Linked DNA regions of Homo sapiens. The protein of the gene in region 1 purifies or fractionates together with the protein of each later gene. This does not show direct contact. Each region holds a gene or a part of one and is shown in the gene's direction. Other genes may lie near its edges.

Region 1 (3,621 bases):
GCAGGATGTGAGGGCTGGGTTTATCTCATGCTGTGGTCTCTTTAATTTCAGAATTCTACCCCAAACCCACTCTCCTGGCACAGCCAGGTCCTGTGGTGTTTCCTGGGAAGAGTGTGATCCTGCGCTGCCAAGGGACTTTCCAGGGCATGAGGTTCGCCCTCTTGCAGGAGGGAGCCCATGTTCCCTTACAGTTTCGGAGTGTCTCAGGGAACTCAGCTGACTTCCTTCTCCACACTGTTGGAGCAGAGGACTCTGGGAACTATAGCTGTATCTACTATGAGACAACCATGTCAAACAGGGGGTCATATCTCAGTATGCCCCTTATGATCTGGGTGACTGGTAAGGACCGACCGGACATGGGACTGGGATGGAGATCATTGGAGAAGGGGTTAGGGAGAGTAATTCCTCCTGGAAGGCTAGGCTAGGCCACGGAGGGGAACTACCGTGCCCAAGAGGAGAAAGATAGAGTGTTAATTTAAGCAGGAACTCATAAGTTTCTATAGTCACCACTTTACAACCTTGGTCTCTTTCTAGACACATTCCCTAAGCCATGGTTGTTTGCTGAGCCCAGTTCTGTGGTTCCCATGGGGCAGAATGTTACTCTCTGGTGCCGAGGGCCGGTCCATGGAGTAGGATACATTCTGCACAAAGAAGGAGAAGCCACTTCAATGCAGCTCTGGGGATCCACCAGTAATGACGGGGCATTCCCCATCACCAATATATCTGGTACTAGCATGGGGCGTTACAGCTGCTGCTACCACCCTGACTGGACCAGTTCTATCAAGATACAACCTAGCAACACCCTGGAACTCCTAGTCACAGGTAAGGGGAAGAGGCTGTCGAGTGGGCATGGAAGTGTAGAAAGGAGGGAATAGACTAGTTCATGGGAGATAGTTTTCAGAGAGCTCGAGGAGAGGCAACCAATTGCCTTTCCTCTTTATTGAGCAGAGACCCCAGGGGTGATGCACTGGAAAGTGACCTCTTCTCTTTGACCAGGAGTTCATTTCTTCCAGGCTTACTCCCCAAACCCAGCCTATTAGCCCAGCCTGGTCCCATGGTGGCCCCTGGCGAAAATATGACTCTTCAGTGTCAAGGGGAACTGCCAGACTCAACATTTGTCCTGTTGAAGGAGGGGGCTCAGGAGCCTTTAGAGCAACAGAGGCCAAGTGGGTACAGGGCTGACTTCTGGATGCCAGCAGTGAGAGGTGAAGACTCTGGGATCTATAGCTGTGTTTATTATTTGGACTCTACTCCCTTTGCAGCTTCAAATCACAGTGACTCCCTGGAGATCTGGGTGACTGGTAAGGTCCTGGAGACTTCAGTACAAGTCACGATTTTGTAGTTTTTAGCAGTAAGCAATAAGGGGGTAAAAGGCTAAGTTCAGGATCATTTCTTTTAACTCTGTGTCCTTGTTGGTTGCAGATAAGCCCCCTAAACCCTCTCTGTCAGCCTGGCCCAGCACCATGTTCAAGTTAGGGAAGGACATCACCCTTCAGTGCCGAGGACCCCTGCCAGGTGTTGAATTTGTCCTAGAACATGATGGAGAAGAAGCACCTCAGCAGTTTTCAGAGGATGGAGACTTTGTCATCAACAACGTAGAAGGAAAAGGCATTGGAAACTACAGCTGCAGCTACCGCCTCCAGGCCTACCCTGATATCTGGTCAGAGCCTAGTGATCCCCTGGAGCTGGTGGGGGCAGCAGGTAAGAGAATAATCTCTCCATGGTCCTGGTGTGACACACCTGGGATCCCAGGGACAGTCCCCATGGAGACATCCCAAATCAGGAGAATGGAGGAGCTTTGGAGCCAGGGACCTGAAGTGTGTCATCTTTCTCCTAAGGATGATGAGGAGGTGGGACCTTAAATATATTTGAAGATAGTGAGTGGGTTTCTTTTCAGGCCTCTTTTCCCCAAGGAAAGGAGGGCTGCTTCTGCTTCAGCATAAACTCTGCCACTGCCCACCCCCTCTGTAGTCTGAACAGATGGCTCCCACGTGAACCCTAAAGAAGGCCAGAGTGTGGGGCAATACCAGATCAAGGGGAACATACACACGCTAATCTCCATGGCCTCGGTTTCTCCTCTTTCATCACCACAGGGCCTGTTGCTCAGGAGTGCACTGTAGGGAACATTGTCCGAAGTAGCCTAATCGTGGTGGTTGTTGTAGCCTTGGGGGTAGTGCTAGCCATAGAGTGGAAGAAGTGGCCTCGACTGCGAACCAGGTAAATAAATGCCTCATTATGGCCCCCTTCTGTGAACCAGGTGGTGCTAGAAAAACAATCATACAAATGCTCCCCTAGTATCTGAGCCCCACCGTGCAATCTGTTTTCAGTTTCTGGGTCCTCCCTTACTCATGTCTTTTTCTTTACATAGAGGCTCAGAGACAGACGGAAGAGACCAGACCATTGCCCTTGAAGAGTGTAACCAAGAAGGAGAACCAGGCACCCCTGCCAATTCTCCTTCATCAACCTCTCAGAGAATCTCTGTGGAACTGCCCGTTCCAATATAATAATCTCCTCCTTTACAAGAGCTTTCCTCTCCTCTCTCTTGCTCTCAGAGACCTATAAATCCAACCAGTTACCCTGCAAGTCAGCCCCATCTGCTGTTCCTTGGTCTCTAATCACCTGAGCTGGGTAAAGGGGATTCTGGGAGTTGAGAGCTCTGCCAGGGTGAGATGTTTCCTGAAGAGAGGTTCCCCACCCCTGTAACTCCTCACTGTACTGATTTACTGGCGCATGAAATTCTATTAAAAATGCATTCTTCTGAATAAAAAGAGTATTCACTATTTAACTTCAAAAACTATGGCTGTGGTCTTCTATTGGTCTGTTTTCCACTAACAATTTAGAAATGATGTATTGGAGCTGATCTCGATGGCAGAATAAGAGAGTGCAGGGGTACGAGAAAAGAGAAAGTTGTTCAAGGATGGGCGTGGGGAGGGGGCTCCAAAATAGCTACTTCCCAATTTGGTTTGACACATAGTCACTGACCAGAGTATTCTTTTGCCCTTCCATGGGATAGATGAATGAATGAATGGCAACACTCTCTCCAAGTTGAGCCTGAGGAGGGAAAACACAGACATTACATGCATTTCATTGTGTTACGTTTGGGTCCATAGTACATCCACTTTCAAACAGTGGGATTGGCCCTCAGCAGCACTTTGAAACTGGAAAAGCGCGCTTTGTGACCCTTACCTAGCAATCACAGGGTGTAAATGAATTCACTCTTAAGTAAGAACAATTAATCAAATCTGATACTTTGTCCCTCTCTAAAGAGAGTTCCATTTTCCCAAAGGAATGTGCGTGTAATGGTGGGATCTCAAGAAGCCAGTAAGCAGATGAGGTGGATGGTTTGGAACAGGGGACCTGCCAGTGTCGCCTCCCAGGATTCCAAATGGGGAAATGGTGGGGCGGGGGGCTAGCTCCCATTCTCAGCCACTGATCTTTCCCCCTGGATTAGAAGGCCACTTGCCCCATGAGTGGGAATTCAGTACACATTAGGCCATTAGGCCGTTTGGAATGGGGTGGGTGGCTTACCTAGTTCCTCAAAGCTTGTTAAAGACCTCAGAAAAAGTGACCTACAGGTCTGAGAGGGGGTCATGACCCCTTCAAATCTGACCCTAAAGAAGT
Region 2 (3,970 bases), on another chromosome or scaffold:
TGATTGCAAATTGACTTCATGAGTTGGAAATGGGACTGCCTTTTAATAGAGTGGAAGAGGTGGAAATCTGCTGAATCTAAATGAATTTAATTAAGATTATCCCCTGATTTATTGTGGGGGCTGGGGTGGCTGGAATCATAGTAATTACTCATAATTACTACTCAGAGTCATTAAGGGTGCCGCTGACCACCTCTAGAATTAATTTTGACATATCTATAGTCAGGTAAGATAACAAAAGCAGTTCGGAATGAAACTTAAGCTCAACCCATCACTGTGACTACATTCAATAAAGTGAAGGACCCTGGTGTCAACCAAATATTAGGTACTGTTACTGCCCCTGTGACCCACATTACAAGTACTTCTGCCAAGAAGTCAAAACATGCTTCAAATAAACAAATCTTTACTCTCTCTTTGTTTTTTTGATATGGAGTTTCGCTCTTGTTGCCCAAGCTGGAGTGCAATGGCACAGTCATGGCTCACTGCAGCCTCCGCCTCCCGGGTTCAAGTGATTCTCCTGCCTCAGCCTCCCGAGTAGCTGGGATTACAGGCGCCTGCCACCATGCCTGGCTAATTTTTTGTATTTGTAATAGAGATGGGGTTTCGCGATGTTGGCCAGGCTGGTCTCCAACTCCTGCCCTCAGGTGATCCGCCCACCTTGGCCTCCCAAAGTGCTGGGATTACAGGCGTGAGCCACCGCACCTGGCCAAATAAACAAATCTTGATGGTTAAAAATAGAGATACACATCAGAGTAGCCTGGTATTGCCAAATCTGTGCTGAAGTATTTAGAATCAAATTTAAAACATGGGAGTTTGCAATGAAGAGATGTGTACACTTCTTCTGCCCCAAGGGACTTTATCAGGGTGATACTCTTCCACATTCAGAGGGCTCCTGAATCAATACTTTGATTTAAAGAGAGCAGTCATCATTTTCTGTGCGTGACCATGTTTGTTTTGCTATTGCAGATACATGGCCCCTGAAGTACTTGATGAAACCATTAATATGAAACACTTTGACTCCTTTAAATGTGCTGATATTTATGCCCTCGGGCTTGTATATTGGGAGATTGCTCGAAGATGCAATTCTGGAGGTACCTTTCTTTTTTGCCTTTGCTCCTACCTCCCATTCCAGGATGCTGGATCACCCAAAGCTGTTTTACTGCCCCCTTTCTTTTTACAACCTGTTGGATGCCTGTTGCCAGAGCCTGAATCATCGTTTAAGGTTGCCATCAAAGGTGTGGAGGTAGCTGTGCTTAGGGTGCGTTTATTCTTCAGGGATCAGTTTGTTGAATAGCGTTGTGTGTTATGGTAACCATTCTGAAGGCTCGTTTGGCTTTATAAACAAACAAACATTGTTTTATTAGTCCGTGGCGGGGAGTGCCCCGGTGCGCATAGCACGGGATTCATGCAGTGGTCTCCTTCACATCAGAAGCAGTATATTCTAACGCGGTGGCTCCCAAGCCACATTCATGGGAAACCCTGCTGTTTCATTGTTAAAATAATAGTGCTAATTTCTAAATTTATAAAAGTGCATAGATTTTTCTTAAAAGTGAGTTTTTTCTCCCATAGTTAAAAATCGTTGGCATTTGCAGCTGCTTATTCATGACAGAATCCAGTAAGAAATAGTATCAGATTTAGCAGAAACACTTTTTATTGTCAACTTAGTATATCAGTATTTTATGATAATTTCCATATATTCTGCCACATGATCAAGTTCCAGGACCTCTAGAGCCCTACTCTCAGCCATTTATCTGTGATATAAGAGATTCCAGGGCAGTGAAAGTGATTGAAAAAAAGAACTGGTGGTGCTCACTTCGCCAGCACATATACTAAAATTGGAACAATACAGAGAAGGTTAGCATGGCCCCTGCACAAGGATGACATGCAAATTCCTGAAGCGTTCCATATTTTTTAAAGACCTAGTATTTGATAGCACCACAGGGTGACTATAGTCAATAATATAATTGTACATTTTAAAATAACTGAAAGAATATAATTAGATTGTTTGTAACACAGTGTAAATGCTTGAAGGGATGGATATCCCATTTTCCCTGATGTGATTATTATGCATTGCATGCCTGTATCAAAACATCTCATGTACCCCATAAGTATATACATCTACTGTGTTCCCACAAAAATTAAAAATTAAAAAAATCTAATCTACAAAAAATATGACAAGTCTTCCAGCAGAACTGTTTTGTATATTAATACCCTTTTCCAGCTTCCATTTATGACATGTTTGGTAAAATCCAAATTATGGAAATAGTGCCCAGGTAGTATTCATGGAATTGTACCTCTTAAATTTTGATCAGTATATGCAGTAAAACAGACTAAGAGGCCAGGCGCAGTGGCTCACGCTTGTAATCCCCAGCACTTTGGGAGGCCAAGGCAGGCGGATCACGAGGTCAAGAGATCGAGACCATCCTGGCCAACATGGTGAAACCCTGTCTCTACTAAAAATACAAAAATTAGCAGGGCATGGTGGTGCACGCCTGTAGTCCCAGCTACTTGGGAGGCTGAGGCAGGAGAACGCTTGAACCCTGGAGGCGGAGTTTGCAGTGAGCCAAGATCGAGCCACTGCATTGCAGCCTTGCGACAGAGCGAGACTCCATCTCAAAGAAAAAACAAACAAACTAAGAAAAATCTGGTCACACAGGTCTTAAACTGTGAATAAGTTTATTTCTTCTTATGACATCCAGAAATTGAGGCTAAATATATAATAATGCTAACATTTATTCACCACTTGCTATGTATAAGCTCATTTAATCTTTACTACTACAAGTAAATAATAAGTAGGTGCTATTATCATCGCCATTTTACAAATGAAGAAAATGAGTCACAGAGAAGTTAGGAAATTTGTCTAAGGTCACATAACTATTTTAGTAAACAAGGGTTCAGACTCGGACAGGCTGAGGCCAGGGCTTAAGCCTGTAACTACCCCTTAGATAATTACCAAGTCCAATTCTCTATTTAAAAATATTTCCCAGGCTGGGCACTGTGTCACACCTGTAATCCCAGCACTTTGAGAGGCCAGGGTGGGCTGATTACCTGAGGCCAGGAGTTTGAGACCAGCTTGGGCTACATGGTGAAACTCTATCTTTACAAAAATAAAAAAATTAGCCAGACATAAAGGCCAGGCATGGTGGCTCACGCCTGTAATCCCAGCACTTTGGGAGGCCAAGGTGGGCGGATCACCTGGGAGTTCGAGACCAGCCTGGCCAATGTGAAGCCCTATCTCTATTAAAAATACAAAAATTAGCCGGGTGTAGTGGCGGGCGCCTGTAATCTCAGCTACTCAGGAGGTTGAGGTAGGAGAGACTCCATCTCTACTTAAAAGAAAAAAAATTGTCTCATTAGCTCAAGACAGCAGGGTTTTTTTGTTTTGTTTTGTTTTTCTTTTTCTGGAAAAGGGCTTGAGAAAAATTAATTGGCTTTTTATTTTTATTTTTTTGAGAGAGGGTTTCTCTTTGTCACCCAGGCTGTATTGCCATGGCACAATCTTAGCTCACTGCAACCTCCGCCTCCTGGGTTCAAGCCAGTCTCCTGCCTCAGCCTCCCGAGTAGCTGGGATTACAGGTGCCCACCACCACTGCGGGCTGATTTTTCTGTTTTTAGTAGTGATGGGGCTTCATTGTGTTGGCCAGGCTGGTCTCGAACTCCTGACCTCAGGTGGTCCACCTGCCTTAGCCTCCCAAAGTGCTAGGATTATAAGCGTGAGCCACTGTGCCTGGCCTAAATTGGCTTTTTAAAACTATCTTTTTATTATGGAAAATCTTTCTAAGTTTGTAGTTCTTAAAGATGAGGACTTAAAAAAATGCAGTGCTATTACCACACTTTAAAAAATGAACATTAGGCCGGGCGCGGTGGCTCATGCCTGTAATCTCAGCACTTTTGGAGGCCGAGGTGGGCTGATCACAAGGTCAGGAGTTTGCAACCAGTCTGGCCAACATAGTGAAACCCCGTCTGTACTAAA

What was found. Proteins that work in one complex are often made in the same cells at the same time.
Region 2: the proteins of IGSF1 (region 1) and ACVR1B purify together in Homo sapiens (affinity purification with western blotting; one study listed by BioGRID). This does not show direct contact.

What each region holds. Positions count from the first base shown.
Region 1 is NC_000023.11:131,272,679-131,276,299, reverse strand, and holds the end of IGSF1 (immunoglobulin superfamily member 1 isoform 1 precursor), read left to right. Parts: intron 1-51; coding exon 52-339; intron 340-534; coding exon 535-822; intron 823-1,013; coding exon 1,014-1,301; intron 1,302-1,422; coding exon 1,423-1,701; intron 1,702-2,093; coding exon 2,094-2,217; intron 2,218-2,368; coding exon 2,369-2,504; 3' UTR 2,505-2,794; downstream 2,795-3,621. UniProt on the Homo sapiens protein: Seems to be a coreceptor in inhibin signaling, but seems not to be a high-affinity inhibin receptor. Antagonizes activin A signaling in the presence or absence of inhibin B.
Region 2 is NC_000012.12:51,985,855-51,989,824, forward strand, and holds part of ACVR1B (activin receptor type-1B isoform a precursor), read left to right. Parts: intron 1-963; coding exon 964-1,088; intron 1,089-3,970. UniProt on the Homo sapiens protein: Transmembrane serine/threonine kinase activin type-1 receptor forming an activin receptor complex with activin receptor type-2 (ACVR2A or ACVR2B).